Regions from separate parts of the Homo sapiens genome. Here region 1 is reported to be linked to region 2. The links are microRNA targets in miRTarBase. Many come from high-throughput screens and were not tested one by one. Region 2 holds a microRNA gene; the other region holds the end of a gene's coding sequence.

Evidence for each region. Region 2 holds the annotated microRNA hsa-miR-181b-2-3p (CUCACUGAUCAAUGAAUGCA, at 1,512-1,531, shown strand). A microRNA usually pairs through its seed, bases 2 to 8, with sites in the 3' UTR of a target mRNA and lowers its output. Matches are read on the target gene's strand: a 7mer-m8 pairs with bases 2 to 8, a 7mer-A1 pairs with bases 2 to 7 and ends in A, and an 8mer does both.
Region 1: miRTarBase lists INSYN2B as a target of hsa-miR-181b-2-3p. Seed matches in the 3' UTR shown: 7mer-A1 at 3,106-3,112 and 7mer-m8 at 3,089-3,095.

The regions. Positions count from the first base shown.
Region 1 is chr5:169,859,645-169,865,029 of GRCh38, forward strand. INSYN2B (inhibitory synaptic factor family member 2B) reads right to left here. Exons shown (of 4, transcript NM_001129891.3): 4 at 1,659-4,815. The coding sequence ends at 4,629. All of the region lies in intron 27 of DOCK2 (dedicator of cytokinesis 2), which reads left to right. Among named protein-coding and RNA genes, the nearest start is that of INSYN2B, 120 kb to the right of the region's middle.
Region 2 is chr9:124,692,252-124,697,636 of GRCh38, forward strand. MIR181B2 (microRNA 181b-2) reads left to right here and starts at 1,459; the gene lies at 1,459-1,547. All of the region lies in intron 2 of NR6A1 (nuclear receptor subfamily 6 group A member 1), which reads right to left. The region is part of intron 1 of MIR181A2HG (MIR181A2 host gene); the gene reads left to right. It overlaps MIR181A2 (microRNA 181a-2), which reads left to right and starts at 191; the gene lies at 191-300. RefSeq lists an enhancer at 2,771-3,316.

The DNA.
Region 1 (5,385 bases), not on the chromosome of region 2:
CTTATGCTTCCTGGAATGGCCCTGGCCCCTCACACATTCCACCCACCAACCACATTGCTCCCAACACCTACTTCCCCACAGGATTGCTATAAGCCCTTGGACAAATCATTTAGCCTTCCTTAATTGACTTGTGCTTAAAATGGAAGGGACCTGGCTCTTAAAGTCTCTTTTACCTCTAGGATATTTGATTCCACACAACAAGAATCTTTAATTCCCGGAGTGCTGTGCTGTATTTTATGTGCCCATGTGCTCTTTTGAATCATGGGCGACTTTATTACTTAACATTAACTGTCGTGGTTTCTGGTGGATCCTTCTTTTTTTTTTTTTTTTTCTTTTTTTTTTTTGAGACAGACTATTGCTCCGTCACCTAGGTTGGAGTGCAGTGGCATGGTCACAGCTAACTCCAGCCCTCTTGGGTTTAAGCTATCCTCCTGCCTCAGCCTCCTGATTAGTGGGGACCAGAGGTGTGAGCCACACTCTTGACTAATTTTTTAATTGTTTGACGGGGTCTCACTACTTTGCCCAGGTTGGTCTCAAACTCCTGAGCTCAAGCAATCCTCCTACCTTGGCTTCCCAAAGTGTTGGTATTACAGGTGTGAGCCATCGTGCCCACAGAAAGTGTTCTTCCCTTGCCCCGAGAAAAACCTGTTTCTGAAAACCACTGCAGCTTCACGGAGGTATCTTCCTTTCTCTCTCCCAATTTACTTCAATCCACAAATGACTGAATATGTGCTTGTTGAGCACCTGGCCCAATGTGTACCCTACATTGTGTTCTTGGCTGTCACTCAGTTCATTGTCAAGGCACTCTTGGGAGGCAGGGGGTATATCAGAGGAATCAGAGGCTCACAGAAACTAAGCAACTTGCTCAAGTTTATGCAGCAAAAATAAGATAGCAGACTGCTGTCAAACCCAAGACTTCTGATTCTATGTCCAGGGTTTGTTTTTGTTATTGTTTCTCTAAATTGATGTTTCCCAAAGTGGGAGACTCACTCTCCAGGTGTAAACCCAAGCTGGTTTTAGATGGTTCGTGGAGAAGGCAGGAAAAGGAATACTGAATCACATGACAGGAAAGTTGTTTTCTTTTCAATTCTCTCTCAAACATCCTGTTTAGTCAAGTAGAAAATGGGCTTGGTGTGAATGTGCCTTTCGTATGTGTTGAATATTTGCTAATCTCCCATCTTAACAGAGAGCTGGTCTCAGGCTTAGCAGCCTCAATAGCAACAGGGTTTAGCAAGAACTTAATAAGATATTTTTATTTCATATTCTATTTTTGGAACATGATATTGTTTTTCTTCACATTGGCGATATAAATTTGCCTTTTAAGGAAAAAAATTAAGGGGGAAATAAAGAAAAGTACTGGATAAATTAGAGTTCAGGTGTCTGAGTATAATGATACAAATCATGCCTGTACATCCATGGAATGAGGCTGGGAGCAGCTCTCCATTTATTCATGCTGCCTCCCTCACTCACGGGACACGCGGGGCTTCATGTGATCATCGTGACACTAAGTTCTGAATCTGCTCTTTATTTATTTCCCTTAGAAATATATAGAAGCAATTATAATGAAAGCCATACTTGCCCTTAGGACCATTGAGGTGTCCTTCTTAAGCATACATTTTATAACTGAAATCAACCCAAGCTAGTAATGGAGTCTTAAAACCTAGAAAAAATATGTAAGTTTATTGCAAAAGATAATATCCCGTTTAAAACAGTTTAGAAATTTACAAAACCTTACATCAGTACATCGTCTTTAAGAAGGTGCTCTATAGATGAGCTGGTATTAAGTTCCAAGGATAGTGAGTATGCATTTATGCATTGCTTTTTAAACTACAGAGAAAGCAGCTACATAAACTCCTGCAATTTAAGTTGATGTATTGGTCTTTTTCCTTTCAATTTTATAAAAGTAATTTTTGCTAAGTTAATATCTCTCCAGCAAACCAGATAACCTCAAGTACAGCATTTCTGTAGAATATCATGGTAGATGTTACGTAATATTTTACAAAGAAGCAGTGATTTTCACATGAATAAGTGAGTATGCAGTTTTGGTATATGTGTGTGTGGTGTTTTAAACATAGAGACGACCATTTTTGTTCATCAGGAAAATGTTTATGGAATCCTATTTCCTCATAATGATTTTAAATATCAATTTTTCAGAAGAGAACTCCTTCCCAGTTTCAGGTCAGTGGCCCAAGCAATGCGGTGTTGTGCTTTGGTGTAGAATCAGTACAGCCTTGTTTGGCTGTATTTCTAGAAATGTCAACATTTTATTTATTTTTTTCTTTTCTTTTCTTTTCTTTTTTTTTTGTTGGGGAAGTGCAGAAAATGTCAACATTTTCTAGTCCCAGTTTTATTTAATTCAGTTAAGGGTTCATGTGAGGGCCTCAACTGGAAACATATCTATGACCACATCAGCTTATTAATTTTGTGTGAGGTACCTCAAACATCTCTTTATCTTCCCAGGCTAACTTTGGCCAGTAATCCAGCTCAGCTCTGAGTCACTCAGCTCACATAATGTGGAACGTGCTAAGAGTTTATAAAGTAGGAAAGCATATGTTCTTATCTGTATTCAAGAATGGACAAACAGGCCGGGAAATTTAAGCCATTTGCCAAAGGCTAGTGGTATAGACTGCTTGGTTGCCTGGATCTCTTAATTCTGGGAACAGGGTTATTTACATTCTAGCATGATGCCCGAGAATATAAATTCACATGAAATTAGCGTAAGCAAAGCAAATTAAGATGGAAGCTCTACTACAAGATAAAATTACATAAGAGGTCCCAAATGATTTCACTTTATTGGATTATCCTCTATTCTGTTCTTTTCCATTGCTGGGGCCAACTGACAGTTGATCGTATGGATACAGGAAAAAAAAAATCTGTGGCTTTTAGCCAGTGGTAGCATATCTTATTGAAATGTGGCTTCTTAAGTATGACAAGTGTATTTATCTTAATTCTAACATGACGTTATATATTCCGGTCTGATTCTGTGGGCTTAAACATTACACTAGAAACAGAACAAGAACATCTTGAATGACATTCCAAGACTTAAATAGTGCAAGCTGATATTCCTTGCCAAATTTCCCTTTCATTCTCACTGAAATAGCTTTGTTCACTGCATCACTATGACAGGGGAAGGTGAAACCATCGGAGTGGTTTGCTCAATTAGGCTCAATTTGCAGTGGGGTAGGTACATCCCACGAACACACAGGATTCTGTGCTCTGCAAAGATTCTAGCTTAGACACTGGATCTTCAGCCAAGGGAATTACAAAATACCTTCTTCGTTTAATGTATGTTTAGTTTCAGGCTCCCTTTCTAGCAATGTCAATCTAACCACATGCTGATAGAGATTTTAATTCAACCAGAAGGAATCTGAGCCTTTCCATCCTACCCCTCATCCACAAGAGTATATAGCAATTACTTAATTATATTACTTTAGTAGTTTGTTCAGCCATGCAAGTTTGACTGGATCCACATGTATGTAGGTCTTGTCAACAGAATGAGCCAGACCTTGAATAACTCAGACTTTGGGATGGAAAGATATTTAAACCTCAAATAGAAAAAACTATATCCTCATCCATAGTCCTGCTAGTTTTTCAATCAGGTGACCATTGTCTGGTCACCAGGAAGGGAGACTGTGTCGATTAATATATGTTTGAACCTATCTACACGGCTGTTTCTGGGATGAAGGGATGAGAAACAGTGTTGTGTTTTATCTTAGCCTTATCTATGTTACTCATAAGATGTAACTGATGGACAGGTTGCTGGATCTCATGATTTTAAATATTGCAGGTAAGTTAACTATGGAGTCTTAAAGTTCACACCAAAAACAGATTCCACCCATTTGCCAGGTGGTCTCAGGCCCTAGGCAGAGAAGAAGCATGATGGTTTAGGGTGGGCCCTGGAACAGCTACAGCTGCTGAAATCCTCTTTGAATTACACTTATCCAGCACAGCCACACCAACAAGTTTATACCCTGGGGTGGCCTGACTCTGCCACAGGCAGAAAGGTGCATGCACCATGAGATGACAGAGCCTTAATTTGGGATCAAGGGGCTAATTAAAAAGGAAAACAACCCAACACACCAGGGTGATCTTGCATAAGCATTTTATGCCCTGCCCACTTCTCTTGTGCTTATTATGTATGCTGATATCTTAGAAAACTGCCAGTTTATCTCATTTTTTTCTATGGTACCTGCTTATAACCTATAACCTCCCTCTACCTTCCGGGTCTGCACAACACTATTTTTTTCTTTTGGGTTTATGAACCCAGGATGGGAAGGAAGTGCTTGGCATCTTGGAGGTGTTGGAAGGTGTAGTGTGGGGTTTTGCTCGTGGTGGGAATCTGGTCTTAAAACTCAGCATGAGTTCTGGCTGAGTGTGACAGGGAACTTGGCAAGCGGTCACTCTAGTGTCCGTGAAGCCCTCAGCAAGCAGTCGCACGCACTCAGGTAAGGATCGTGGTCAGGTGTCCAGCAGCGGCTACATCAGCTCCAAGGCTCTTCTGTTTCACAGGCCAAGGGGCTCACAGCCCAGGGCCTTTGCAAAGAAGCAGGGCAGGCCTTAAGTGCAGTGGATTTCCCATCTCAGGGAAGTGCGTGGAGTTGGGGGGCTGGGGGATGGTCCCAACCAGCTCAGATCCACCAGAAGCATTTCTTTTTCACCTTCTTGGTTTTCCGCCTTAAGTCCTGCTTTTCCGGGGCTGGGGGTTCTGCTGGGGACTTTGGTGGGGGCGATGCCTCCTCAACTGGCTCTGCTTCCTCCAGACTCTGCAAAACTTCATGGAACCTGCCTTCCTGCTGCCGAAAATCATACTCTACACTGAAAAACACAGAGAGGAAGGAAGGAAAGTGAATTCGAATCAGCACAGACTGATTAAGCATCTCTCAGCCCCAACTAATATGGAAGAGCATGAGCTTTGGGATCAAATCCTAGATCCTTAGGTACCTACTGGCTCTTTGACCTTGGGAAAGTGATGCCACCTCTCTGAACCTCTAGTTCTTCAGTGATTGAATTGGCACCTGTAATGCCTTCCTCACAGGGATGTTATTAAGGGTCAGTGAGACCTGATGGCAAGTGTTCTGTAAATATTGGCTCCAGTCTCTCTCTTAATCATTAATGGGGTTTTGGCATGTGTTATGCATGAAAACTGTCTCATTATTAAAAAATTGAGATAATGCAGAGGAACAGACAAGAAAACTGACAGCTCAGTTTCATTATCTGTAAAATGGGGGTAATAAGAGCACCTATCTCAAAGGCTTTCTTTGGAATTAATGTGTGTAAACTGAGATAATATAAATGAAATGCTCAGAGTAGTGCCTGGCGTGCGCTAAGTCCTCCGTATGTGTTAGCTTCTATTACCGCTATCATCATCATCATTAACATAATTTC
Region 2 (5,385 bases):
AGACATTCATTTGAGTCTGCTTGTACAAATTACTGCACAGTCTATCCCACAGTTCATTAGTTCTCTGCTGCACACAAATTGATTTTATAATTTAAATACTCTCGACTTGAAACCCAGAGAGGAATGTAAGAGCATCCATCAGCGGTGGTCTCACTGCTCACTGGTTCTTGGGATGTGGATGGGAGAATGAAGAAGGGCTATCAGGCCAGCCTTCAGAGGACTCCAAGGAACATTCAACGCTGTCGGTGAGTTTGGGATTTGAAAAAACCACTGACCGTTGACTGTACCTTGGGGTCCTTACAGACGACACTACATTTCCTGAAGCAAAAGAGCAAGCTGTACCTTCACATGTCACATGAGTTCACCAGAAATGGTCCTGCAATCCCCCAAATGTGGTCCAGTGAATTTTATTCCTACTGCTCACTGTTCCTTGCTTTCTGTTGTGTGTTTTATTATTATTTGTTTGTTTTTACAAAAAAAGTGTTTCATTTCAACAAGGTAAGGAGCAGTCCATGATGATATCTAATGTACCTACATGTCTCCTAGATATGCACCATTCTGGTGAGAAACAGGACGTAGCAAGTAAAAATTTATTAAAAATACGTATTTTGTTTTGGAATAAAATCCAGTTAAATAATTACTCCCATTTCTCCCACATCCTCTCAAAATTTTTAATTAGGGGCAAGGGGAGGATTTAATAAGCAAAAATAGCACAAAATTATCCAATTGTGACAGTTCTTATCACATTTCACTTTGAATTATAGTTAATATGGTTAATTTTTGATATCCCAGTTAGAGCATGAGCTATTGCCTTACTAGTGCCCACATATCCCCACATATGCTTATTTAAATGTTTGCTAAATTCAAGCAAAAACTTAGCCCTGGAGTCAGTCAGATCTGGGATGAATCTTGGCTCAAGCCCTTAACTAGTTATTTGACCCCCTAAGCAAGTGTCTCAGTTTTCTCACATATAAAACAGAGGCTAAGAGTACCTATCATGGAGTTTTGAGACTCAATGAGATAATATATAAGGTGCTTTGTACCATTACTAGCCCACAGCAAATGCTCAATATATGTAAGCTGTTATTATTAAACTCCAACATAATCTGCTAATTTACCTCAAAAAAGCACTCATACTTCTCAGTTCAAAACAAAGAGGAAAAGCAGGTCCCTCAGCTGTGGTTTACAGGTACTAATATGCAAGCACTGCCTGTGTGGCGCAGTGCTACCTGTGAGGTTCTCCAAGCACTCCTTCCTTCTCTGAACCACAGCTTCCTCATCTGCAATAACCTCCCAGCTCCAATGTCAATGTTATGGACACCTGTGTGGGCCCTCAATCATGCAGATGGCTGGTTACTAAGGGAGAAGCCAGACACACAGACTTCAAAGAACTGAGATGGAAAAGAAGAGCCAGGAGTCAGCCAGGGAGGGCAAAGGCAACCCCACCAACTGAAAACACTGATGGCTGCACTCAACATTCATTGCTGTCGGTGGGTTTGAGTCTGAATCAACTCACTGATCAATGAATGCAAACTGCGGACCAAACAACCCAAAGGAAGCAAAAGCATGTGCAGAGAGTCGCCTGAGTGCAGCAGCTACTGCTGTGAGTGGGAGCTGCTACTATTTCCAAAACACTAGCTAAAGCTTTTCTTGTTCTCCTTGGTTCTAACATGGAGTAAGTTCTCTAAATTCCTAGTACTTTTCTCCTTTTTCAATAGTCTAGATTTAAGGAAATGATATTTTATAGGAAGAATTAAATACATATCTGGATATCACATCACATTTTAAAAATCAGTACATTCAGAATTTCTAAACAGAATCATATGCTTATTATTTAGAAATTCAAATACAAAAATATACAAAGTAAAAATTGAAAATCCCTTCAATCATCATCTGCAATCCATTTCCTCGGAGGAAAACATGTATAATTATAATAAACTTATTAAGATAATAAATATCATAACTAGAATTTATTTTATATCCTTGAAGACCTTTATCCATACATACACAGATAAATAGCTGTAATTTTGCATGTTTTGGGGGGAGAGTGGCTTAGACAAAAATAAGCTCATTTTTACCTATTGTTCTATAATCTATTTTGTTATTCAGCTATATATCATAGACTTCCACAACAGTCTTTTATGTACTCGTCATTCTTTTAAATGGCTATATAGTATGACTTAATATGAATGTTCTGGTTATTATTCAGATGTACATCAATATTCTCTTTTGACAAAAACTATGAGGCTCATTCATTCTAACCTTTGCAAACCATGTCCCTCAAACAGGAAAAACACCTAAGTGAGATAGAAGATGTACATTTTTCTTAACAAAAAATTTAAATGTAGTATCAACTCTCTAAATCCTGTAACATGAGATAAGCCACTAAATCCCATGTTAAAGAAAGAAAAACAAGGCCCTTGGTCATGAATAATTTATCATACACTTAAGTCTAAGAAGAAGCAGATTCTCATAGCAAAAGTCAAATAAGACAGTAAGAGAAGAGTCTTGTCAAATTAGCCTTGACAATTAAGCAAGCCTTAATTTGACAAGGCTTTCCTGTCAAATTAGGAAGGAGAAGTGATGGGGTAATGAGACAAGAACCAGAAAGAGAAATCAAAGCCAAAAGAAAAATCTAAAGAAAACTATGAGAGTTCAGAGAAAATATCAGGTTCAAGCCAGTGTTTCCCAAACTTCTTGTACACCAGAATCATCTAGAGTTGCTTTTAAAATGGCAAATTCCTGAGCCCTACTCTAGACGAGGTGATTTTGGGTCACTGGAAGCTGGAAGCAAAGTAAATAAAGTTCACTAGCTTAACATCGGCTTCCTGCCCCCATCCCACCACCACATTTCATGTCATCCACTTTTCAACTATTGCCCAACCTTTTGTGTCACCACCTGAAATCGCCACTATTCTGCTGAGTGCAGACAGGTAGAGTCACATTTGTGCTGCTTTTAAGTATCTCCAGACTACATAAAATTTTGCACCATGTTTGGTGGCCAAATATACATCAAATTGTGTCTGATGTTTTATGGAAATGAATGGATTTGGATTTACGCTATCTAAAAAACTAAAACCTACCCAAAGAAATTACCAAAAGGTTTTTTTGTGTGTGTTTTTCTTTCGTTTGTTTGTTTTTTTGAGACAGTCTTGCTCTGTTTCCCAGGCTGGAGTACAGTGATGCGATCTCGGCTCACTGCAACCTCTGCTTCCTGGGTTCAAGTGATTCTCGTGCCTCAGCCTCTCAAGTAGCTGGCCCGCCACCACACCCAGTCAATTTTTGTGTTTTTAGAAGAAATGTGTTTTTAGTAGAGCCATGTTGGCCAGGCTGGTCTCAGACTCCTGACCTCAAGTGATCCGCCCGCCTCGGCCGCCCAAATTGCTGGGATTATAGGCATGAGTCACCGCGCCCGGCCCGAGGGGGTCTTTATAGAAGAGTTTTTTGTGAGACTGGTAGACACACAGAAGGTACTCCACGCAGTCTTGTTTTTCAAGATGCTGTGCATTCTAGGCATTTATTTTTAACCAATTATTTCCAAAATTTCTGAAAACATTAGAAAAGAATGTCTGACACGTACTTTGAAAAATGTACACTTGAACAAGCATGCTATTTATTTACAGACTATTACATAGTCTTTAAATATGCCAATGAAACAATTATATATTTCATTAAACCAAATCCAAGTTTTCTCTTGGATAAAACTAAGTACTACAAGAAGGGAGACAATTATGTAAGTTAAAGGGTGTTTTCTGCAGATAGGCCTCAAAATAAATACCTGTAACAGAAAAATTACATGGCATGTATAGGGGACAGGAAGAGAATAGTCCAGAGACTGTATTAGGGAGTCATAAGGAATGGCACTGAAAAGGTAAAAGGACATATTACAGAAGGACTTGTGAGCAAGGCGCAAAGTCAATTAGTCCAACAGAGAGCCGTTTTAAATGCTAAACTCAGCAAGGAGACAATGAAAGCAAGACTGGGAAGAGTCACTAAGCAGATGAAGTGAGGGGAAGAAAAGAGAAAAAAGAGAACTTTCTTGCACAAGTTAGCAGGGGTAGAACTGAGTCAACAGGAATGGAATGAAAGGAAAGGTTATCTCAAAAAGGCATACTTTGGCTTTTGTTTTTCAAAATAAAAGCCTACTGGCTGACCCCCTTCCATCATCCTGTTCGGTGTATAGCCTCACAGATATTTCAAGATACTTAAAATGCATGTATTTATACTTAGAGAAAATAACATCACAAATTATACATAATGTTCTCTAGCTTTTTTTTTTTTTTTTTTTTGAGATGGAGTCTCGCTCTGTCACCCAGGCTGGAGTGCAGTGGTGTGATCTCGGCTCACTGCAACCTCTGCCTCCTGGGTTCAACTGATCCTCTCACCTCAGCCTCCAAAGTAGCTGGAACAACAGGCACTCACCACCACGCCTGGCTAATTTTTGTATTTCTAGTAGAGATGTGGTTTTGACATGTTGGCCAAGCTGTCTCGAATTCCTGACCTCAAGTGATCCGCCCACCTCAGCCTCCCAAGTAGCTGGGACCACAGGCACGTACCACCATGCCTGGATAATTTTTTGTATTTTTAGTAGAGACAGGATTTTGCCATGTGGCCCAGGCTGGTCTCAAACTCCTGACCTCAAGTGATCCACCCGCCTCAGCCTCCCAAAGTGTTGGGATTATAGGCGTGAGCCACCGCACCCGGCCTGAAATCTTTCTTCACTTAAAATATTGTGGCCATCTTTCCATATCGATATATCAGAACCACCTTCCAAAGAACTGGCTCAAACAGAAAAGAAAGCAAAGAGTCAAGAATGATGCCAAACTTTCCTGACTAGATTAGGAGCCTGGAGTGTACTAAGAAAGAAATGGGCAATTTCACAATGGAAGAAAGAGGATTCCACTTTTGGAACAGATATCAGAACAAGGAATGCACATTTATGATTCATAAGCATGGATCTGAGAAAGAATGATCTAAGTGCAGAAAGAAAAAGGTAACAAATACTTATTGGACACCTAGTGTATACCTGGACTGCAACAGGAGCCAGGAGACATGGAAGAAACAAAAGTATATAACGTAAAAGGCAGAACTAATTCTAACGAACAAATAGCTAATTGCAAGTGTGAAGAGCTCTGCAGAAGATAAAAGTAAGGTACTATGAGAGCAAATAATAGGAGGGACCAATCCAGTCTTGGTGGTAAGAAGGGTCAGGGAACTTCCTTGAGGAAGTGATGTATAAGTAAAGACTTCAAGGGTATGTGTAACTACCTTGGTGAAATAGAGTAAGCATTCCAAGCATAGAGAATGGATGGTATGTTGTGTAGGCCAAAGAAGCAGTGTTTTTACAAAACAGAAATTGTGACTAAAGCACATAAAAAGATGGTG